Regions from separate parts of the Homo sapiens genome. Here region 1 is linked to region 2. The links come from fine-mapping of genetic effects on plasma protein levels. A gene starts in region 2. The other region holds a variant in brackets. All regions are shown on one strand. Distances are between the middles of the regions.

What was found. A credible set is the group of variants that fine-mapping cannot tell apart. PIP is the chance, under the fine-mapping model, that this variant and not a neighbour inherited with it causes the effect. The UK Biobank Pharma Proteomics Project read protein levels with antibody pairs (Olink). The fine-mapping took linkage between variants from a reference panel, not from the people measured, so its PIPs are less certain.
Region 1: its variant is the best candidate, but not a certain one, in a credible set for the plasma level of the THBS4 protein (UK Biobank, PIP 0.72).

Annotation. Positions count from the first base shown.
Region 1 is chr5:79,992,102-80,005,002 of GRCh38, forward strand. It overlaps a transcript of THBS4 not described here. Among named protein-coding and RNA genes, the nearest start is that of MTX3, 7.3 kb to the left of the region's middle. The variant A/G (reference allele first, on the strand shown) is at 5,305.
Region 2 is chr5:80,030,012-80,042,912 of GRCh38, forward strand. THBS4 (thrombospondin 4) reads left to right here and starts at 5,337. Exons shown (of 22, transcript NM_003248.6): 1 at 5,337-5,614; 2 at 10,066-10,269. The coding sequence starts at 5,527. It also overlaps the pseudogene TRMT112P2.

The sequences.
Region 1 (12,901 bases), 38 kb before region 2:
AAATCATGTAGCTCGTCATGTCTGTGGGCCTAATGAGCACAGACTAAATGTTTCTTGACGTTAAACCTGACAGTTTCTCAGAAAAACTATTAAAGAGGAAATTTTGGTCTTGGAAATGCTATGATCCAAACATATGACTGGGTCTCAGAGTTAGAACTTGGGTGCTGGGTCTTTTTTCTAGAAGGCACAGTAGTCTTTCTGGGACACCCTCGCAGTCATGCCTCTGAGTTCTTTCCTCTATTCCACTGAGATGGTCGGATCTTCTTAACTAAAACTCAAAAGAAACCTCTGCAACTTTTCGTAAAATTACTATTCAACAAATATTTGCTAGGCACTCCCTTACTGTTTACATAATCATTCAAATTACAGTGCCAGCCTGCTAAAGTCTTTTTTACATGTTTCAAAACCAAGAGTTCTAAGAAATGAAAAAGAGATATGTCAGAAATGAGAATTCATTAATAATAACTGTATAATTGGAAAATGCATAACATATGTACCATTAAAACTGTCGAAACATTTATTGAGCAGCTCCTATGTCTTAGACATCATAAGGTTCTGGAACAATACAGAAATATATAAAACATGAATTCTGTCCTCGGGAGTTTACAGTGCACAAAGGAGATATACACACACCAAGGTGTAACAAGTCAGATAATCACGAGTAGGGTTAGAAATATAAGCAAAATACTACAGAAACACAAAGGAGGGACAGTGCATCCTCTGTGTGATCAGTGGAGACTATCTGTTGAGTCTTCAGTATAAAGAAAGTAAAGTAATTCAACTTTCAGATTGTAATGGAACCTCCCTGTTTTGAGGGTTAGAAATGTCAAACCATAGACTGACAAAGGCAAGGCAGGGGGAAAGAAAATCCTAAGCCATAAAGCTGAGGGTCCATATACTACATTCAGGCATTTAAAACAATCATACAGAAAGAATGTGGATTTCCTGAGCCTTGTTTGTAGCAGGACTGAGAGGAGTGAATGAACATTCTTAGTGGACACATAACACAGTTACTCAGTTTGGCCTTCTTCCGTACTGCTGCTACTACATACAGTGATTTCATTTGCATTAAAGAGAAATTAAATCTCTTCCCTTAGTGTTGAATTGAGACAGAATAGCATGTCATTGCATCTGATGAAAGAATCCTTACACACAGGTTTATTAGTGCATAGATAATAGCAATCTTTTATTGCTGCAGTTCCTCTTGAGAGTCTGTATCTGTTAGATTGAATTTAAAAAACTCTAACATAGCTGATTGCACAAACAGGCTGAATACTGTTCCAGAGAACCACACAGAAAATTGAAGCCTTCAGAAATTATGCCTGGTATGGTTAGTTGGCTCCTGTGCCTTTTCCTGGCTGTTTTAGAGTATTGTTCAGAGTTCATCTAAATCATAACTTCAGATTCCTACCGGGAAGAATACTGTCTGCAAAACATCCATGTTTGTGTGGGATGGCCTGAATCACAGCTTTATAATGAGTATCCCAGACAGTGTTTTCCCCAAAAAAGAAATCTTATTTTTCAAAAGATGATCATTAAGAATGGTTTCATCTGGTGATAGTCATCTGAACTCAGGCAACCTGACCTTGGCATCCATACCCATCCTTCATGTGTTTCTTAACTTGGGAGCCACAGTGCAAGGTTTGTTAGGCTCTTTTTGTCTGGGTGATTAAGAATCTGGGAAATGGTGCTGTTGGGAAAGATGAAAGGTTTGTGACAAATGATGGTACAGTATATGGTCCCTTATGGGAAAATTAAATTGTAAAGTCTTAAATATCCCTTTGAACTTGAAGATTCTGTAATTTGTGTTCAGATATAAAATCCTTAAGGAGGGGAAAGAACAAACACTGAATAGAAAAAAGGAGAGCTGAGTTCTTGACTTGGCCTCTGATTAGCCATATGCGCTTGGGCCAATCATTTTACATTGATACCTCTGCTCATTCATTTATAAAGCAAAAGTTCTTTTATCTCTGAGATGCTATCATTTTATGTGTAATGAACATTTAATAATTTCTGACATTTATGGAGCAATTTCTACATGCCAGAAGTTGTTTCAAGTATCTAACATAACTTGCTTTATCTCCATAATGATTTCATGACACAGGTACCTTCCTAAGGTTAACTAACATCTTTGTGTCCCTCCTTGAAAATAGAAGAAAATATCAGTACCCATATAGCCAGTAGGTGGTAGAACCAAGATTTGAACCCAGGCAGTTTTGGCTTCAGAGTTTATACTCTTAACCACTGTGTCATACTGCCTCATGTAGCCTCCTGTGTAGTCCATTAAAAAGCCCAGTTTCACCCAAAGTGGAGATATCAATGCCATGATATTATTGTTATTATTTATGTAAATAATATTTGTTTAGTATTACACCATTAAACGAATTCATTAAGCAGCTTCTGTATGCCTAGCACACTGCAAGCCTGTCAGGGAATAAAAATTTATGTTCGCCTGTAATCCTAGCACTTTGGGAGGGAGGATCACTTGAACCCAGGAGTTCAAGACAAGCTTGGACAACATGATGAAACCTTGTCTCAACAGAAACACAAAAATTATAGCTGGGCATGATGGTGTGTGCCTATAGTCTCAGCTACTTGGGAGGCTGAGGCGGGAGGATGGCTTGAGCCCAGGAGGAGAAGATTGCAGTGAGCCGTGATTGTGCAAAAACTTATGTTCAAGCTTTTAGAGGCACAGTTGATGAAACAAGGCCCACATATTTGAACTAACTAGAGACTATTAGGAAGTACCATTTTGTCAAGAAGACAAGTCTAGTATGGTTTTAGACAAAGGCTTGAATGTACTGCAATGCTTGGCAAAGGCCTAATGAAAGAAGATGATAGCTGATCTCGAAGGGTGGGTACGTTGCATTTAGATTGGCACAGAGTAAGGCATTGCATATGGGCTGTGCTATATAAGTGAAGGCATAGAAACAGGACTGACTATGGCAAGGAATCTGAAGATGAGTAAACGAATGCTGGGTTTGGTTATAAGCTGGAGACTGCTCAGGGAGAGTATTGGTTGACTAACTTGAGAACCAGAATTGGAAGGCATGGGAATTTATAGTTTTGAGAAAGTAAAGACAAGTAAAAGTCCAAATACAATATTAGTGGATTTACATAGTCAAGGATGGGAGGTAGACAGCTATTGTTACATGGACATTATAAGAAGAAGCATTTTATAAACCCATAAACTATATTAAATAAAGTAAAAGTGTGGTGGAAAATGCTGCTGAATATTATTGGAGGAAGGTCACTTGGCACCCTTCCGCTGAGCATTTTTGATAGAGGAGGTTGTTAGAAATCCAGTGGCAAGGGATTACTGGAGAAAAGGGTATAAACGATAAGGACAGGTCTAAGAGCATGAGGAATATGACTGATAAAGGAAGAAGAGAAATGGGACAGGACTGAAAGACTCAAAGTTTTTGAAAGAGACGACATGGTGAATCTACACACATATGAGGACAAAATTGGCTATTATGAGTAAAAGTCTGAAGATGCTGGAGAGAAGAAGGATGGGATCCTAGAAATTGCCCTAAGAGTTGAGGCTGAGATCCGGAGCTTGAGCAGCGGGGCTGGCAGGCATTGAAAATGAGAGACATGCTCTCTTTCTGACACTGGAGGAAGTTTCAAGGGGAACTATGGGATGCTGAGTAGATAAATCAGTTACCTTCAAATTTCCCTATTACATTAGAAAAAAAATAAAAGTGCCTGAGAGAAAGAGATTGGGGCTTTAAAAAGACAGCTGGGCACAGTGGCTCACACCTGTAATCCCAGAATTTTGGGAGGCCAAGGCAGGCAGACCACTTGAGGATCACTTGAGGTCAGGAGTTCCAGACCAGCCTGGCCAACATGGTAAAACACAATCTCTACTAAAAAAAAAAAAAAATTAGCTGGATGTGGTGGCGCACACCTGTAATCCCAGCTACTCAGGAGGCTGAGGCAAGACAGTCGCTTGAACCCAGGTGGCAGAGGTTGCAGTGAGCTAAGATCGTACCACTGCACTCCAGCCTGGGCAACAGAGTGACTCTGTCACACATACACACAAAAAAAAAGGCGGAATAATTTAGAGACTATATCAGGGGTTAATAAAAAGTAAATGGGAGCATTGCTGACAGTCGTAAAGGTCAAATGTAAATTAGTATTAAGGCGATAAATCAAGGGAGAGCCATGGGCAGGCTAATGATTAGGTGCCTCTTTAAACAGATATTCTTTAAATATTCATTCAGTTTTTTTAAATGGAAATAAAGTTGGCCCCAGAATGTAACAAGATCAATTTATATTTTACCAATTATTTTAAAAGTTTTATTTGGAAATCCGGATTTTAGTACCACTTAAAAGTTGGTCCTGAGGATGATAGAAGAGGGATGGTACCCTAGGAGTTGCCCCAGGAATTGAAAGAAGATGAACTCTGTAGCTTCAGCATGATGGGGGCTCAGCCATCCTGACGTCTAGCTAAATTTGTACAGTTGTGTGGCTTCCTCTAAAGATACTTTGTTACCCAGAAGCATAAAAAGCCAAGTTCATGTATTTGGTAGCTATGTGAAGGTGATCAGGCAGTAATATATACTGATAGGGATTCATTTTGCTCCTCCAGCATAGTAAACCTGCTGTCTTTTGTATGAAAAAGAATTAAATGAAACCAAAATGAGAATATTATAATCTGACATTGTGCTGAATTTATGTTGAGGAAATAGGACAATTATACTTAAAAAATGAGGTTTGTAAAGGGTCCTAGGTGGAAATAAGGACCTTATAATGGAAGTAAATAATGGAAATAACGGAAGCCTTATTTCTATACTTCACTCAAAGTGGTAAAACCTAATATACCAATAGACTGTGATGTTAAATATGTATATTATAATACTGAGAGTAGCCACTAAGAGAACTATACAAGTGATATACTCAAAAATACTAAATAAATCAAAATAGTTTTTTTTTTTTTTTTTAAGTCCAAGTAACCCACAAGAAAGCAAGGGGCCAGCAGGGGAGTGATAGGTTGGAAGTGGGGAGGTAGTCAGAGAGATGAGAAGTTGAGAATAAACAGAAAACAGGTAACAAAATGGCAGGCTTAAATCCTAAAATACCAAGACTTATTCTAAATGTAAAGTTGATCTCAATACACCAATTAAAAGACAGAAATTGGCAGAGTGGATAAAAAACCTAAGCTAAATGTATGCTGTCCCTCAGAAACTTCCTTCAAACATGACATTGGTAGATGGAACCTAAAAGGATGGAAAAGTTATACCATGCAAACATTGATCAGGAAAAAAAAAGTAGTATGCGTGTATGTGTGTGTGTGTGTGT[A/G]TATATGAAGGACATTACATAATGATAAATGGATCAGTCCACAAGACAACATATTAATCCCAAATGTGTGCACCAAACAACAGTGCTTCAAAATACATGAAGCAAAAACTGATAGAGGTGAAAGAAGAAATAGACAAATCCATAATTTTAACTATAACATAAGCTATAGTTATACCCGACACTCAGCAATTGATAGAACTACTGGACAAAAAATAAGCAAAGATATAGATGAATTAAACAACAGGATCTAATAGACATTTATGGAATGCCCCACCCAGTGACAGCAGAACATACATTATTTTTAAGAGCCTATATAACATTCACCAAAGTAGGCTATTATGAGTCATAAAGCAAACCTCAACAAAAGTTTTTAATGAAATAATGCAGAATATATTACTTGACTGTGCTGGAATTAAACTAGAAGTCAATAACAGAAAGATAACAGTAAAATCTCCAAAAACTTGGAAATTAACATACTTCTACGTAATCAGTGGGTCAGAGAGGAAGTGTCAACAGAAAAGAAATATATACAATTGATAATAAAAATACAACATTTCCTATTAAGAGAATGACAAGAAGCCACAGACTGGGAGAAAAAAATTTGCAAAACATATATCTGTTAAAGGACTTGGGTCCAAAACATACAAATAACTCTTAAAACTTACAACAAGAAAACAACCCAATCATACTGGATTAGGATAGACTGCAAATCCAGTGATTGGTAACTGATATGGTTTGGATTTGTGTCCCTGCCCAAATCACATGTCGAATTGTAATCCCCACTGTTGGAGGAGGGGCCTAATGGGAGGTGATTGGATCAAGGAGGGATTCCACCCTTACTGTTCTCATAATAATGAGTTCTCATGAGTCCTGGTTGTTTGAACATGTGTCGCATCTCCCCTTTCTCTCTCTTCCTCCTGCTCCAGCTGTGTGGGACGTGCCTGCTTTGCCTTCGCCTTCCACCATGATCGTAAGTTTTCTGAGACCCCCTCAGCCATGTTTCCTGTAGAGCCTGTGGAGTTGTGAGTCAATTAAACCTCTTTTCTTCATAAATTACCCAGTTTCAGGTATTCCTTTGTAGCAATGTGATAACAGCCTAATAAAGGTGACCTTATAAGGAAAAAGAGACATAGCAACACAGACGTAGACCCAGACCCAAAATTGGTGAAATCTGAATGAACTCTGTGGTTTGTACCAATGTCATTTTCATGATTTTAATATCGTACAATAGTTACAGTAGATGTTACAATTGGGGGAAACATCCCTGTACATTTATTTTACAACTTCCTGTGAGTCTATACTTAATTGAAATTAGATGTTTTTAAAAAGAATTAAAGGTAATGTAATGGCATGTGATGCAAAAAATGGGCACATGAAATATCCAGAGCATTCAACCAGATGGCAGCTAAAAATGTGGACCATCTGCCTTCATGGAACTTTGTATTTCGGACATCTTTTCATCAGCAAGACCATGCCATTTAAATGTTTTCCCAGAAGTGATGCTGAGCTATGTTCAGTGGCCACATGGCTCTCTAGAATCAGTAACAATGAATAAGGATGGACAGCCGGGAGTAAAGATGCTCTCCAGGAAATCATCTTAGGACTGGGTAACCCCACTACACCCCTGGGATTCAGTCAACCTTGGAAATCACTGGAATCCTTAATATAAACTACAAACAATCCAGCATTCTCTGTTTGGCTAAAGATACATTTCAAAGTTTTCTTTAAGAAAAAAAAGCAATATATTAAAACGCTTTGTTTGAATATATGTATATTTGCTGGATCAATAGTTCTTACAGCCATATTACTAAAATTAAGGGCTATGGCATAATAAGAATTACTATAATTCTAAACCCATTAACAGTTTATAGCTTATCCATTTCTTATACTATCCCTGTGAGGAATAATTATATCAAGCTTTATTTGTTTACACCAAACAGGAAAAAATAGATGTATTTATTCATATTTCCTCCATTGGATTAGCCAAGTCTACTAGGGAGCAAAAATAGTAAATTCACATGCCTCCTTTTTTTATGGTAGTAATTGAAAAAGTTATGGATATGATCCCATTTTCTGAAATGTTTAAAAATGAGTGTATAAAATGATCTTATTTTCAGAACTTAAGTCATTATGTGTATTGTTTATAGGGAGTTATATTACTTTTCCAGATTAATAGGCTGCCATCGATAATGAAGAACAAATAAATCCTGCCTTGTGAAATGCTGCCATTTTAAAATTTGCCTGAGGAAAGATTCATTATTGGAGGATTCTTTGCTTTATACATAAATCGCTTTAAACAGCAAAGTCTCCTAGCATTTAAAAATAGTCCATATATAAAAATTCTCTCAATCCACAATCATGTCAGTTGTGTAAAATGAGATATATCTGGTCTGATACCTCAGTTTATGGAAATTCCTCTTGAAATGTCAGTCATTACTCACATCAGTGCTTTAAATGCCATCTTAGCAAACTAAAAGAAATTAGCGTACATTTTGAGTAATGGAAGTGAGTTAGGAAGAGGAAAGAACAGGGTCCAATGAGTTTGAAATGGTGTTTACAGTTGGGTATTGTTCATAGCTTTTGGAACTGTCTTGCTTCCCCTATTCATCAAGGTGCTGAGGCAACAACATTAAAATCAACCCAAGAAGTATACTGAGTAGGTATATGGGAGAATGGCATATTAACTTCTTGATAAAATGTCTCAGTATGTAAATACTTATGAATTATTATTAATTTATATTACTGTACTTACACCATTTGATTACACCTGCATAAAGCTGCATACTCATTTTTACTTCAAATGCAGGAACTAACTCTTATATCCCCCACAGCATTTAGTTGGCACATAATAGATGCTTATAGTTGATGGACACAAAACATATTCAACTATTACAAGAACAGAACTTTTATTGCTTCTTCAGTTTCAAATGTCTCAAAGTTACCCTTTGCTTTTGACCACAAAGTCTACCCCTCCTTATGGTAGTTTCCTCAGGTGTCTGTGTCCTCTCTTTCCATTGCATTTTCTTCTCCCACATCTACCCAGTAACTGGAGTCTTCCTCCTTTTGCTGCCCCTTGACTACAAGGCATTTCCATCTTTTGGCTTCCTAATATGTCATGCCTTCTGTTATTGCCACCACAGCCTTCCATTTCCCAGCTCTCATTTCCATCCTAGGGATGGGACAGTAAGGCTGTCATGAATAAGCATAATTTATATGCCTTTTTCTCCATTTGTTGGTATGGATAATTAAGTGACCTTCAACTTTCATTCAAGGTTAATCATAGCGCTGAAAACCAAAAGGATAAGATGAGAGTGAGCAAATCAAGTCCAGAGAGGTGTATTTCCAGTGTGGAACAGTAACTCAGTGTAAATATCCAGGAGAGAGGCTTCCAAGAGAGCGTATGTGTGTGCACTGGTGAGGGGAGGAAGGGTTACGGGCGGGAATTGTGGTAGAAGCTTCCTGAGGCCAAAGAAAACATTCCCAGAGGGTCTCTATTTTAAAGAAAAGATTTTCTTTCTCTGATTTTTTTTATATGTAGATGTCTTCATTATATATTTGGACCTGTTTTTAAAACAGCTTAGTTTTAGATTTATTCTTCGAGATAACTTGTACCTATGGACATCACCAACAGCTTACAAAAATTAGACCAGTTGACTCTCAATAAGACTTCTCACCTGATCCATGAGCATCATCTCTTTATTTGGATTTCATAAGCCAGATGATATCTTAAAATTGGCAAATATAATTACAACTCCGTTGAACATATTTTTCTCCAGAAAATGTTTTGAGTACAAAAACGACATCTAGAGGTGACTGTCAATATATCTTTTCTTTGCACGTACTACATATTTGTTGCCGTGTTTTAGAAATATTTTAGAAGTTTGGGTAACAGAACCGGCAGTGGCATTTATTGAATTCTTCCTCACAATAACTGAAGGGATAGTATTATACTCGTTTTGCAGATATAACCCTTTCAATCCAACTAATATTTATTAAGTTTACTAAATGCTGGCACCAGTGATACCAAGATCAATCAGATGTAGCTCTTGTTACTGAATGGCGTACATGGAGGAGATAAACACAGTAACGTCCACTCTTGTGTGGTGAGTGCTGTTGGAGATTAATTAAGTGTTATGAGGTTATAGAAGAGGAATTATTCACCCATCTGCAGAGGGCTTGGGGATGAAACAGTGTCAGTGAAGCACTCCTGGAGGAGGTGTACCAGGGGAGGTGTTCCAGACAGAAAACAGCTGAAGTAAAAACATGGAATAGAGCAATAGTATATTGTGGTCTGAGAACTACGTATAATTCAACATTTCAGGAGGGTAAAGTGAGCGGTAGATAATGATGAGAAATAAGACTGCAGGCACAGTCAGAGGCCTATTTACCCACACAAAGGAATTTGGAGTTGGAGGCACCAAGGGTAAATATCTTGTTTCAAAAAGTGATTACATGAGGATTTTTGCCCAGTTCTGTTTGTCTCCAAAGCCATGATTTTTACATTAAACCATATTTACTTCATAGACATTCTTCAAATTAACCATTTACCAAAGATGTAAATAAGTTATAAGAAGAAAAACAATACTAATTTGGAAGATAATAAAAGCATTATTTGGAAAAAGCCAGTGTAGTATCTCTATTTTCAATTTGAACTTTGAGTCCAATGATTAGACATTTTCTAGTCCCATATTTTATACCATACCATGCAGTCTGCTTTTGTTAACTATCATTAATAGTGAAATGACAAACTGACCAGCATCTAATACTGGGGTTACACTGGTGGGTACCCTACAACAGGCGTTTTGTTCTTTGGTATCTAACCACTACCTTCAGTAGCTGCCTGACAAAGATGTGAATCTGAGGCCACACTACCTCAAGGGCACCTCTACCAAGACACATCTGCTGGGCCTAATGAAAACAGAGGTTTCTCCTAGCCCTAGCATTGGAGACTGACATACCCTCAATGGATGTCAGGGGAGACCCAGTCACTAAGGATGACTCTCCTGCCCCTAACCCATTAGCATGTCCCAAAAAGAAACAGGAGACCAAAGACCTTTGCCTTGTATAACAGTCATGCTGCCTCGGAAAAGCTGGGAAGTCCCCTCCCAGTGACCCCCATGCTCTATCCTAATGTGAACGATGTTCATGCTTTTTCATCAAATCTTTTAAATAGAAAGGGTGCAGAGAAAGTCAACTGTAATCACTTGGTGCAGAGTGCAGGGAGAGAGAGCATTTCATATTCAAGAAGAAATTGTCCAAGCAGTAAATGGCATTGTGGTGAGTCCTGTAATTGGAGATAGTAGAGAAACACTGGACAGCTGAGGAAACTCCAGAAGGGAGAAAAAAAAAAAAAAAAAGGAAAACCTAAGAACAAAATAAAAGAGTCTAAAATTTACACAGAATCAGAAAAAGACTTCTGAACAAAATAGCATTGATGGTGCTGGGAAACTTAATTAGTGCATACCCCTTACAGCAGGAGGTGGGTAGAGGAACTGTTATGTTAACGAAAGATCATTTGAAAAAAAAAAAAACAAAAACATGTTGTCTTTCTCTTTAAAATTTTAACTAAATTCCCTGATTCTTAACAGAACAGGGAATATACATTTTTCACTAAGGAACAAGTGTGTTTTCTTAAAATTCCATATTATGATCTGTTACAGGTGAGTGGGTGGCAAGTAGAATATTGTGGTTAACTCCTGGGATGGAGAAAGGGTAGGGGAATCGATATTATTAAGAGAGGGATATAGGAGAGGCTTCAGTAATTTGCAGTTTGAATACTGCAAACTTAAGTAGTAGGAACTAATGTTTCTGGAGTTATTCCTTATACCTTTATAAATGCCTAAATACTACAAACATTTCATAAACTTTTAAAAGTGAATTGGAGATTCGGGCAATATTTAGGGAAATGAGAGGGCGCAAGAAAGAGATCAGAGGGGCAGAGGATGAGAAGAAGAGGAGAAGTAAGTAGGGAGAGAGAGAAAAAGGGAAGGAATGGTTTTGAACCTAGTGAGCTTTTGGAAGGGTTAGGTTAGAGGTCACATCATGCTGTTTTCCTTATCAATTCTTACCCTGATTGAGTAGCTCTCTACCTGTTTCTCACCAAATGGTTCAAGCAGCTGCCATGGTATTCTCATCTCTACTTCCCAGCCACAAAACAGCTCCAGCCAACATAAAGCAGTTCTTCCAGTAGAAAAAAGAAAAAAAGAGCACCTGCAATTCCCTCAAGAAGAAAAGAACAAAAACAATGAGTATATATGTATGAATGAACCTAAAGCAGCTCTAAACTACTCCCCTTTGGGGACAGAAGCAGATGCCTTCGCCAAATTCAAAATGAAATCCCATATCTCTGAAGACCCCCTTCTTATGTTACTGTATAATTTACATGCAAGTTGTCTGCATAGTTAATCGTCCTCTATAGCATCTGGTATTTATCATCAAAAGCCGCTTGTTGAGAGGTTCTGGAGAAGCTCTTCATGTATCCCGGGTTTTAAACATTTTTCTACAAGTCTGTTTCTTTAAAATTAAAAGTGTAGCTGAGCACAGCGAGGATCTGGTAGTAAGTAGTAGGGAGGGTCATTCATACTTGGGATGTTGCTAATGTGACCTGCATGATTCAGGGCCAGAGAGGTGAATGAAGATAAAGGGAACTAAGCGTTACAGCCAAAAGGGTTCTGAAAATCTCCTAGTCAGATTCCTCAGTTTCCACATTTGACAGTAGCTTTCGCAGGGAACCCCATCCACCATGACTGAGCTGAAACTAGAAGCCAGGTTTTTCAGGTGTCATTCAGGGTTGATTTAGGGTTTTGGTTTTCTCCTGCAAAATGGAGAAAATGGGAAAATTTTAGATTATCCATGTTAGAAGGATGATGAATGTGTGTAAATGATATTGTTCAGATTCTGTGAGTGGGACCAGCACCACATTGGACTGGCCTAGGGAAGTCAGGATTCTGCCTTCTAGGTAGGTGCTCCCATCTGTTGGTGACCTGGAACATCTCTCTGTGTTCATTCTGGAGATGCAGATCTGGGTCCCGCAGACTCAGACCTTTGCAGGACACTAGGGTGGCCCCTTGTTGCTTCTCATCTGCTATAGTCTCCTGCCACTGTGGCCTACGGGTTTGATTTAGAAATTCAGGAAAGACTAGAAGCAAGCAAACAGATAAAAGGTTAGTGAAGTGTTTATCCACTAGAGCAAAGCCACAACTTTTCGTATTATTTAGCTCTTATTATTCTAAATTTTAAATTGTTTTTTATTGTTTCACTTACCATGTGTAACTTTCACTTTTCAATTACACATGGCAAGTGAAAGAATAAAAAACAATTTATTTATTTTTTATTTTTATTTTATTTTTTGAGACAGAGTCACGCTCTGTCACCCAGGGTGGAGTGCAGTGGCGTGATCTTGGCTCACTGCAACCTCCGCCTCCCGGGTTCAAGTGATTCTCCTGCCTCAGCCTCCTGAATAGCTGGGATTACAGGCACCCACCACCACACCCGGCTAATTTTTGTATTTTTAGTAGAGAGGGGGTTTCGCCATGTTACCCAGGCTGGTCTCAAACTTTTGACTTCAGGTGATCCACCCTCCTTGGCCTCCCAAAGT
Region 2 (12,901 bases):
AAAAGACTCCAGCTTCATTTACAGAGACCTTATCTGTGCTAAGTAGTTTTTGGAATAGCTTTTTTCCTGTCACTTAAGCACCTTCCTTTATTATTAATAGTAAACTAAATAGGAGTCCAAAGTCTGCCTTTCCCAGTGCTAGAGTATAAATGTCATCACACGGTAGAATGTAAACATCTTTTTTTTTTATTATTTTTATTTTTTTGGACAGGGTCTTGCTCCGTGGCCCAGGCTGGAATGCAGTGGCATGATCATGGCTTTCACTGCAGTCTCAACCTCCTGGGCCCAAGCAATTCTGTCACCCCAGCCTCCCAAGTTCCTGGGGCCACAGGTGGGCACCACCATGGCTAACTAATTTTTTAATTTTTTTTTTTGAGACAGAGTCTCACACTGTTGCCTGGGCTGGAGTGCAGTGGTGCAATCTCGGCTCACTGCAACCTCCACCTCCCGGGTTCAAGCGATTCTCCTGCCTCAGCCTCCTGAGTAGCTAGGATTACAGGTGCCCACCACCATGCCTGGCTAATTGTTTGTATTTTTAGTAGAGACGGGGTTTCACCATGTTGGCCAGGCTGGTCTCGAACTCCTGACCTTGTGATCCACCGGCCTCGGCCTCCCAAAGTGCTGAGATTATAGGTGTGAGCTACTGCGCCTGGCCTGATTTTTTAATTTTTATTTTTATAGAGATGAGGTCTCACTATGTTGCCCAGGTTGGTCTCCAGCTCCTGGCTCAAGTGATTCTCCCACCTTGGCATCCTAAGTGCTGAGATTATAGGCATGAGCCTCCATGCCTGGCCCCTTTATCCATCTTTTAATGTTAATAATTATATCCATTTCTGTTTCCTTCAAAAATTCAAGTGGAAAACCTGACATAAATAATGGTAACTTTTTTATTATACCTATATCAATTAACACATATGTATAAAACTTCTACTTAGTTGTGCCAAATATCAGTGCACAGTATGGGTGATTTCCCCCACTTGCGAAGAATGGTGCTATAGTCACCGCACAGGAGCAGGATAGATCCCCACTCTCAAAATTGGGTTTGGATATCAAAATCAATAATGCCATCACACATGCAGCAAAGGGGTTTGAAAGGTTTATTGCTCACATAATACGTTTTTTTGGGGGAGAGTAAGATGGGCTTCCAAGCTGGTCTGAAAACTAGAGAGAACAAGAAAGGAGAATGGCTTTGGGATTCTTATTGTGGTTAGGAGTGGGGCTGTGGTGAGGGTTCCTGTACATGGGCTAGGGCTTACTGTTGGAACTTTGTGCTAGTGCCAAGGAAGGAGCACCTAGGCATTCTTATCAGTTTGCTCAGATGTGGGGCAGAGAGGAAGGGAAGTGGTGGGGCTTGAGAACTGTCTGCAGTCAAACATCAAAAATTAAGTCATACTCTGTATTACAACAATTAGAAAAGAAATAAAATGTAGTATATCAGTTCTCTATTGCTACAATATTGTTACATAACAAACAACCCCCAAACCTCAATGGTATACAAAAATAAATGTGTCCTGCTCACACATCTGGAGTCAACTAAACAGCTCTGCTGATCTTGCCTGAACTCATTCATCTGTCAGCTTGATCTTGGCTGGCTTTGCCAGGGGTGGGCTATACCCTGCTCTATGTCTCTCATCCTCCAGTAGGCCAGCACAGGCATGCTATCATGGCAAAGGCAAAGGTGCAGGAGTAAACCAGCCCAATAACACAAGCACTTTTTAAGCCTCTGCTTGTGGCACTTTTGCCAAAATCCTGTTGGCCAAGCATGTTACGTGGCCAAGCCATGAGATGTGTACACAGAAAAATAAAAGATGTGTACACAGAAGAGCAAAGAATTGGGGCCATTTTTGTAACCTACTGCACCTATTAATGGATTACTAATATGTCACAACTCTTATCCTAGATTACAGTATTAAGAGAAGGAAAGTCAATTCAATGATATATTTACTACTAAATGTTAGGTACTGTACTTGGAATTAGAGTTACAAAACTAAATGAGATAATCCTAAGGAGCTCACAGTTGGATACTGGAAAAAAAATCAAACAAATTAATACATTATTAAAATAAATGAAATAAAATCCAATGTAAGTACATGAATAGATATTTTAATAAGAAGTGGCATGGAAATGAAAATAAACTCTTTTGTCTCCTTTATCATATATTTCATAGCTAATTAAATTAATTTTATTATAATCAAATTTACTGTAGACCTGAGGACATAAAGTTTACTGAGACTCCCTAGCGAATGGCTGCATAAAAATGCAAGCCCTCTAAAAGCAAAACCAGATTGTAAATTCTGTTAGGCTAACAGAAAGTCATTTGATTCTTTTGTTTTTCCGTTACACTTAGTAGTCAACCAAAATTTATTGTGTGCCTATATGTGTGTATTAGTCAGAGTTCTCTAGAGGGACAGAACTAACAGGATAGATAGGAAGGGGAGTTTATTAAGGAGTATTGACGCACGATCACAAGATGAAGTCCCACAATAGGCCGTCTGCAAGCTGAGGAGCAAGGAAGCCAGACTGAGTCCCAACACCTCAAGTAGGGAAGCTGACAGTGCAACCTTTAGTCTGTGGCTGAAGGCCCAACAGCCCCTGGCAAATCACTAATGTAGGTCCAAGAGTCCAAAAGCTGAAGAACTTGGAGTCTAATGTTTGCGGGCAGGAAGCATCCAGCACAGAAAAAGATCAAGGCCAGAAGACGCAGCAAGTCTGCTCTTCCGTCTTCTCCTGCCTGCTTTATTCTAGCCATGCTGGCAGCTGATTAGATGGTGCCTACCCAGATTGAGGGTGGGTCCGCCTTTCCCAGTCCACTGACTCAGGTGTTAATCTCCTTTGGCAGCACCCTCACAGACACACACAGGAGCCATACTTTACATCCTTCAATCCAGTCAAGTTGACACTCAACATTAACCATCATGATGTGCAAGCTATTTTGCTGGGAATTTGCTAGGATCGAAAATTCCTAGTTTTTTTGTTGTTTGTTTGTTTTGGTTTTGAATCTTTAATGAGAAAAAATACTATTGTGCTCAAGAACACCGTGCGTCTGGTGTGTCATTGGGTCAAGGGTTGGGGACACACATGGCAGAATTCAGAAACAGGGTAACATCAACAAAAATACACACGGTCATAAAAAGAAAAACTGGCACCTGGCATGATCAACTCTGTTTCCTCATCATTCAGCAGCATGTTGGGGATCCTGCGGCTGATGGGGAACACACGTCCAGACTCTGGGCACTGCAGGGTGCCCTCCAACACATCTACCTCCAGCAGCACGTGGTGCATTGTCCTCACCATGGAGATTCCTAGCAAATACTCTAGGTATTTTAAATAGAAGAAATTTAATACAGGGAAATGATTACATATATAGTAGAAGAACTGAGATGTCAAACAGAAGAGTGAGGCAATCCACATTTTAGCAACTGCAGTAAGTGACCTCCAATGTCATGGCTGGAGGGTGCAAATGGTGAGAAGGCAGAAGCTAGAATCATGGTGGACCCCACCTGCAAGAGTCACAAAGAAGATGCATCCATTCAGGTCACAGAGAAGTAAATACTCTAGTGTCTACCTTCTACCTTCTTATTGCTCTCTAGTCTCCCATTTTATCTAGACTGCTGACAAGCATGCAGTGGAAGGTGAGCACCAGATCTGAGAGGAAACAGGCAGTGTCTGGTGGCACACTACACAAGAACTCTCACAGGCATCCACTAGGCTTGCTTGGTGACTCATTTAAGGAGTAACCCTATTTTATGTATCAGAGTAGTCTATGGTGTGATATAGCATATTGCTGCTTTTGATGTTTGGTTTCATTTGTTCCCTGTAGGCACCTAATCACTGTTTTTTAAATTCCCCAGGAGATTCTGGTATACCCAATCAGCTGAGAACCACTGAATAGTGGCTTTCAAAATTTTGAGCATCCAAATATTGTCTTCACAGAAAATCTTAATCTCTGAAGTCTACTGTAAAAACATAGAAAGGCAAGGCTGTTCTGCTTGAAGCGTAGCTTGGGAGCCTAGATTCCTCTCAAACCCAGGCCACTCCTGGGAACATGGTCTGGAGATTTGAATGTTCCCAAATCTAGTTTATCTCATTAGTCGATATTTATGCACATCCTCTGTGTCTCTCAGTGTTCTCTCATGTGTAGACATATGCCCCATTCCAAAGAGTGACTGTAGTGTAATGTGGCATTAAAGGAACCCTGGATAGACCTGTATTGGACCTTACATATTAGAGAGCTCTGCAGATAGCTCACAAATCTCCAAGTCGCTAGCTGTAAATTGAGTGATAATTGGTGTCAGGTTATTTTAGCACAGTTTGGGGATAAAATGGTGCATTAATCTCCCAGTTTGTGGCTTATTAAACTTTGAAATGGAATTATTTGAGACATAAAAGAGATAGCAATACTTTGCTGGATGTTCTCCATTAGTCGAGATTGTTACAGAGGAGAAATTTTTGCCACTGTTTATCAAATATTTTTTCCTCTAGTTAATCCATATCATTCCGGGAGCTTTGCCCAGGAAAAGGACGAATTACTTGCGTTCCTCCGATCTCTTTCAAGTTCTACTCCCGTACCTTTAAACTGTCACACGGAATCTTTGGTGACAGAGGAATAGAGGTGGGCAAGCAGGGCGTTTGGAAACCATACTGAAAACGAATTATCCATAAAGCACAGATTCACCAGCCTAGAAATGGCTCTGTCTGGATGGATTCCTTGAGATGTGTTTTATCTCCATTAAAAACACAACAACTTTCAAACTTTCACTGTGTCTCAAAATGATAGAGAAAAAAATTCAGCCTTTCAAGTATTCAAGAAAAGCTTGAAGAAATAAAAGAAACTCGCTGCTCTCTGGGCCACTTTAGGAGGCAGAGCGTTCCTGGAGAACTTCAGGATTCATTCGCAAGGGAACCCAAGGTGGGCATTCAAAGCCGATCCAAAGGATATTCTTCTTTTTAGAAAACAAAAGGAGCGCAAGGAGTAGGGGACTGAAGGTGCCCAAAGCTAGTGGGTCAGTGTCACTTTCTTCCTCCCTTTCGCCCCTTTCCTCCCGCTCCTTTCTCCCCTGTGGTCTCTGCTCAGCACCCCTTTCTCTCCAGCCCCGACTGCCCATCTTCGCCCCTACCCTCGCGCGTCGGGGCCGTGTCTACACCCACCCCAGGACCTGGTCCGTCCAGGCTCCTTCCCATCCTCACACCCGCGCCTTTCTCCCTGCGGCCCCGGCTCGCTGCTCCAGCTGCCCAGCTCTTCCCAGGACAGGGGATCCCGCCAAGGGGGCCGCCCCCGCCCCGGCCCTCCCCCGCCCGGCCGCACCATAAAGCGCCCGGCCGCTGCCGCGGAGCCCAGCAGCCAGCTCCCCAGCACCGCACGGCGGGGACGCGAGCGCGCCCCCGACGGCAGCCCGGACGCCGAGCACGGGTCACCTGCGGCGCCGGCCCGGGCGCCGACCGAGGTTCAACGCACGGCCCGGGGACCCCCAGGCGGGGCCAACGCCGCCGTCGCCCCCGGCCTCGCGGGGAGCAGGAAGAGCCAACATGCTGGCCCCGCGCGGAGCCGCCGTCCTCCTGCTGCACCTGGTCCTGCAGCGGTGGCTAGCGGCAGGCGCCCAGGCCACCCCCCAGGGTAAGTGGGTTCGGGTCGGGCCTGGGAGCGCCGGGCACCGGGTGCCCCATCTGCTGAGTGAGTGGAGGGACTTGCTCGGCCCTGTGCTCCTGTGGCCTTGCTCAGCCCCTCTCTGTCCCTCCCGGGCCCAATCAAAGCATATTGTGATTGGAGGTAGTGATTAGTCTAGAATTTTCCGAAATTCGATTATCCAATGATGAGAACAATTGCCTAAATAGTTGGGGGATGCAAAATTGTTTCAGACTATGCAAAGATGTGGGGTGGGGTTGCCTTCAAAACTTGCTACACGGTCCTAGACCTCTTAACATGTTAGGCTCTGGTGTAGGGTGAATTCCGGGTCCTGCACCCTGTGCCGGTTCCCTCCAGGCAGCCTTGCTCCCTAAATCCTTCCTCAGGCGGAGCGATGTATGCCCAGAGTCTGCTCTTGACATCCCTGAGAAAGACGCAGAATTACTCTACTTGCCCTGCCACCTGCATTTTCTGCTCTGACTTTGCTTGAACGACAAAAAGAAAGTTTATTTCAAGGATTGGCTTGATGTCTTAATTTCTGAGGTAAATAGGAAGGGCTGAGAAACTGGTCTTTTTCAATGAAATCAGTTCTTTGCAGCAAGATGGATGCAGCTGGAGGCCATTTTCCTAAGTGGATTAAGGCAGGAACAGAAAAGCAAATACCATGTTCTCACAAGCGGGAGCTAAGCAGTGGATAGATATGGACATAAAGATGGAAACAGTAGACACTGGGGACTCCAAAAGTAGGGGGGAAGGTTGGGAAAACTACCAATTGGGTACTACGTTCACTGGGTGATGTGTTCACTAGAAGCTCAAATCCCACCTTATGCAATGCACCCATGTAACAAACTTGCACATGTACCCTCTGAATCTATAATTTAAAAAGAAAAAAGAAAGAAATTGATCTTTTTCTATGAAACGGTAAAAATTCAACAAATAATGTGAAAAGATACTTGGACAATCCTCAAACCCCTTGGTGAAATGGGGTGAAATAGCCATTGGGTAGAAAGCAGTTAAACAGAATTTTTTGTAAAGACCAAAAGGAAGACATGATTTAAGCAAAGAAAGATCTTAGGGCTATAACTGGCCCTAACTGGTCAGGCGTGAGCTTCATCTGTTTGAACTTGGTGCCTGGGTTGATTTATTACTGACTGTGGAAGTAAAACTGGAAGAGACGCACAACTTGAAGTAAAAGTTGTTTTTCCTCTTGTAGCCAGAGCAAAGACTGCCTATGAGGGCGTTCTCAACTTCCCTGCCTCTCGCTGCTGGAATCACCCATTTAAACTGCATTTCGCCAAATAACTCATTTTCATTCCAGACCAGACAACCAGAACTGTGGTTTCAGGGGTTAGAGTACTGCTAACTTTTAGTTTGTGTTGAAGTATTTGAAATGCTGTAGTCCGTGCCCCATACTTCTAGGAAGGTAAAAAAGGAAGCTTTTAAACACTTCAAAAGTCTTATTGTGATGATATTTGGCAAGTTCAAATTTATAGGTATAATTTTTTTGTGTTATATACGTTCTTGACTTTTGAACATACAGCTTTATGGTGTGCCTTAGGTATGTCTCAGACATACCTGACCATTTTATGGAGATTTGAACTCGGCCTATACAACCTAAATTATCTGGGTAATTTAGTTGCTGTAGATGATCTGATTAAGTTAAGTTTCTGATAGATTCTTTTATTGCATTATCTAGTCTGCAATTATCAGGCTTAACAGGATAATTTGATTATCTCCTTCTTCCCCTGAGCTTCATTGTTGGTCTTAAATTAGTATATATTCAATTTACATACCATGGTAGCTGCGCTCATTGGTAGCAGTAATTTCACCTCTAACAGTAGAGGGTTGTGCTTTGATCCTGGCACTTAAACGTAATAACATTAATAGAAAATGGTAGTGTCTCATTTCCTTTTCAAAACACTCTCTATGTTCATTACTAACTAATCCCATCTCTGCCGCTTGAGAGAGATGCAAATGAATCAGACGAACCATAGATTGAAATACCGCAAGTTTAGCTTGAGTTACATCATGAACCTGATCATAGTCAAAGGAAGAATCAAGAGTACTAAGAATTTTGTTTTGAATGTAGTTCCCATACTTTAAATACATATCTCTTTTCTGAAGATGTTTTGTCCTGAATGGAACTTTAAAACATATTGCCTTATTTCCCTTTGCCCTCATTAGTGGAAATGTAAAGTTTCCAATTCTCTTGAAAATTAAAAAATCCAATTTCCCTTTTGAAATGCAGTAGGCAACAGTGTTTATGGTTTAGGGATATAGGCACTAAGAGGAGCACAGTAAATGTTCTGCTTTCCAACACATCTCATGTTAATTTCATTATTGTGTAAGGACCCCTGGTACATGTGAAAAATACAGTATAGATCCAGTTTGAAGACAAATTGTCTTTTAAAAGGGGTAAATATTCTTGAGTAACTAGGTTTTTGCCTGTTTGCTTTAGAACTTTTATTCATTCTTATTACAAAAGCAATACCTGCCCATTGTAGAAAAGATTAAAGTTAGATAAGCAAAAAATAAAATAAAAAGAAAAGAGGAAATTTAAAACTTATATTTATGCAACCCGGGGATAGCTTCTATTAACATTAACATGTTGTTGTATTGTCTTTCATTTCAAATATTTTTCTATGCAAAAATATATTTCAAATGGAATTACGTTATACATATAGTTTTAGAATCCTTTTTTCTTAATGTATCATGAACATCTTTTCACATCTGTAAGTATTCAGCTACATTTTAAAAATAGGTAGTATTCTGCTTTTTGGAAGAATCAAAATGTATTTAGCCAGGGTTGTAATATAGAACCCTTAAGTTGTTTTCGGTTTTGATATTGTAAATATTAATTTATTGAACAAGTGCAGGTGTCACAGGATGGTTTGGGATGAGTTTAACCATCCCCTCAATCTCAGCCAAGCCCTTCTCTTTTTTTTTGCTAAGGACAGTTAATGTTTTCATAGCAAAATGCTATGCCAACAGAGCTCAGGTTTACCTCTCTTCCAATTAGATTTTCACCTAATTCTTTCCTAAATAGAAATTCTAGAATTACCACTAGTGTCTAATATTCTTGTACCTAAATCATTTACCATGTTATCCATTATTTCCCTAGGATAAATTCCCATAAGCAGAATTGCTAGATCAAGGAGCACATATGTTTTAGGGCCTTTGATACTGTTGTTTAAACTGTCTTCAAAATGTTTATACTAGTTTAAATGTTACACAGTGGTACAGAGAGTGCCCATTTCCCTGAACCCTCACAAACAGTTGAGTACTGTTGTATTTACTAATTTTCCAATTCGATGGTGAAAACAATACGTTATTGTTTAAGTTAGCAACTCCTGCATCATTAGGTAAATACATGAACATTTATTTATATACTTAATGGTCATTGTAATTCTTTTTATGTAAATTGCCTTTTCATATTCCTTGCCCATTTTTCTATTAAGATGCTTATCATTTTATTGATTTGTAAGAACTCTTTATCAATTGTCAATATTACCCATTTAATAACCAGATTATTATATCCAAGAGACAGCTGTAGGTGCTGAAGTTTCTGCAGCCTATGGAATTGTTCAAATGATATTTGCGTCTGCTAATAGATATACTAAATAACTTCCACTGAGTATTACCCAAATTTGGCCTTTGCCTTTTAAATGACTCTGGGCATACTCTCTCATAGCTTTCATAAATATTACAAAGTTTGTGAGAGAAAGTACTGCTTGCTTGATCAAAAGCAACTTATACAAATACAAATGCAGATTCTGATTTTTGTAGAGCAATTCTATCAGTCAAGAGACAGAAACCACATCATTTTGTTTTGTTTTGTTTCCACATTGGGATTTTTTTAAACAGAGAAATGTTGGAGAATTGTAAAGGCACAAAGGGAACACTTAGGTCTCACAAAGGTGGCAAATCACTTTCTACCAGCACATCTACCACCATAGCCATGTTTTCTGCTGCATTTCCTGTCATTTGTCACTGACCAGGAAAACACAATTGGCTCTGGTCCTGGAGGTGCCTATGGGACTCCGTGACAGAAATTCACTGCTTGGGGACATCAGTAAAGCAATGGCTTGGATGCTTTCACCAGTCCCCCTTGTACTTTAAGCCTTTAGTGCTTTTCCTGGTGGGCATTTTCAGAGCTACTTGTTCAGCCAAACCCAATTATGTGTTTGCAAATTCAGTCCTCTCTCTTGAGGGCTACACCCAGTGATGAATATTGTGCTGTATTTCTTCTGGCTCAAATGTCCAGCCACTATAAAAGTGACAGGGAAGAACTGGTGAGTTTGGCAATACGGAAAAGGGATTACAAGATTAGTTTACATTACTTTGTAGCTTACTGTCAAATTGCACCCCCCCCAAACAAAGAAACCCTGTTTTCCCCAAAATTGAATCTTTCACTTATACCCCTTCTTCTCCCTTCTTCCCAGTCTTTGACCTTCTCCCATCTTCCAGTCAGAGGCTAAACCCAGGCGCTCTGCTGCCAGTCCTGACAGACCCCGCCCTGAATGATCTCTATGTGATTTCCACCTTCAAGCTGCAGACTAAAAGTTCAGCCACCATCTTCGGTCTTTACTCTTCAACTGACAACAGTAAATATTTTGAATTTACTGTGATGGGACGCTTAAACAAAGGTAAGCAAATTTGCTGAAATTATTTTCTTAAAAATCTCCTTTTTCTATTCCAGGATTAGGGGTATACTGTCTTTGAGATGGTTTCCTTGTACAATTATATTCTCACTCACTAGTCATTTCAGTTTTTAATACTGAATTCTTCTTACTGTACATTTACCTATATTGGCGGGGGGGTGGGGGGCGGTTCAGGAAGAAAGTGACATTGGGAGAAAAAAAGAATTGCTGTGACCAAGATGCTTTTTGACATTGTCTCATCCTGATGTTATTCTGAATCCAGTTCTGGAACAGAGAGGACAAGGGACAATTCAGCCATTATCTTAGGCAGCTCAGGCTGCTATAACAAAATACCATAGACTTTGTGGCTTAAACAATAGACATTTACATCTCACAGTTCTAGACAGTGGTAAGTCTAAGATCATGGTGCCATCTCAGTCCATTTTGTGTTGCTATAAAAGACTACCGGAGACTGGGTAATTTATAAAGAAAAGAGATTTATTTAGCTCACAGTCCTGCAGGCTGGAAGTTCAAGGGCATGGCCCTGGCTTCTGACAAGGACTTTCTTGTGTCACAACGTGGTGGAGAAGGTCAAAGAGGGAGCAGACACATGGGAAGAGGGGAAAACCTGAGGGGCACCGTAGCTTTATAATAACCCACTCTCTCAAGAACTAATTCATTCCCTTGAGAACTAATCCATTTTCACAAGAGCTGAAACTCACTGTCTCGAGAACAGCACCAAGCCATTCATGAGAGATCCAATCCCATAATTCATATGCCTCCCACAAGGCCCTACCTCCCAACACCGCCACATTGGGGACCAAATTTCAGCACGAGTTTTGACAGGGACAGACATACCATATCCAAACCATACCACCCGCAGATTTGGCTCCTTGTAAGGGCCCAGTTCCTGGATTGTAGATGGCCATCTTTTTATTGTGTCCTCACATGATGAAGACAGACAGCAAGCTCTCTTGTGTCTCTTCTTATAAAGTCACTATTCCCATCATGAGGGCCACACCCTCAGGACCTCATCTAAACCTAATCATCTCCCAAAAGCCCCACCTCCAAATACCATCACACTGGAGATTAGGAGTTCAGTATATGAATTTGATGGGGCGGGAGGAAGGGGACAGATACAAACATTCAGCCCATGACAGCCACCCCATACTATTCTTATGTTCCCTTTGAAGCCAGTGCTCAGTAGACCTAGCTCCTAACTCCTTAAGCACCTACCTGGCCGTGATGGAAAGAATATACCTCAACCAGTAGAACAGGATGAATAGGGCTCTTTTCTCCCTGTGCGTGCCAATTTACACAGGCCTGTCACTGGTTTGATCCCTCTGCTGTCATTTGTTTTGTTGCCGTAGTGAGTTACTATAAGCACTGAGAAGTGAGTCCCAAAGAAAATGGTCACTATTTTTCATTGCCTTCTCCTCCACTCCTTCCCCGGGGGACAACACCTGTTCCTGTTTATTAAGGAATGTGACAGATGCGTGTTCCTGCTGCTTCATGCATTTAATAAAATAGGAGGGCTGGTTCTTCTGGCTGGGTTTTATGTTTATTTCAGTTTGCTTTACAAAGTGGACACTTCCTAGTGCTTCAAACTCTCTCTTAGATTATATTTGTGATTGTACACTTAAATCTGCAGGCATTAGGAAATGAAAGAAGTTTCTAATTCTTAACTTTCATAGGACTCTAAAGTTAAAAGTATAAATGAATGGGACTTTAACCCCTTCTTTTCTGTCAGATTCCAACATGCTTCTTGCCTGCTTCCACGCTACTCCCAAGTCTGCTTTCTCTGTATGTGCCTCATAGCCTGTCAGGGGCCTTGAGGAGGTGTCAGATAATAAAGTGAGTCTGAGGACATGGCCAGCAGATGGGTCAACCGTTCCTGTCCCCCTTTCCCCATCTTCAGCCCTAATGAGGGGGGATTCTGCCCATGTCTCTGCCTTGAATCAAACAGCCCCATTTTGCCTAGCATCTGCTGAAGGAACTGCTCATCTTCTGACAACCCAGCTACTCAGTTTGTGATCGTAAAAATCACCGTTCTTCATCTGTGGATCAGCAGCTTCTCCTAACCTGTCTATTTCAGAGGCATTGCAAAGATTTTTCTTTCGGTTCATCCAGCTTAATGGCCAGAAGTTCCTCTGCAGAGTAAAAAACTGCTCCAAGCTTTTGCCCTCACTGCCTCTCACCCTCTATTTCTAAATTGGCCAGTATGTGTGAGCCCATTGTGGAAAGTCTGTTGCTGGGAAACACAAGGAAGCAACTTCCCCTGAACGGATCCTTTCAGTTTGTATAGACAAGAGTAACACTGGATTTAATGGGCAGTAGGTAGAGGGTAAGGGGATCGTTAGTATGTTTCCTCTGAAGAATCACCAGTAATATGAGTCAGCTGTAAATACCAGTTGATCAAATATTTTAGGGGCTGTAATCCCAGCACTTTGGGAGGCTGAGGCAGGCAGATCACCTGAGGTCAGGAGTTCGAGAACAGCATGGCCAACATGGAGAAACCCCATCTCTACTAAAAATACAAAAATTAGCCAGGCATGGCAGTATGTGCCTATAGTCACAGCTACTCGGGAGGCTGAGGCAGGAGAATCACTTGAACCCAGGAGGCAGAGGTTGCAGTGAG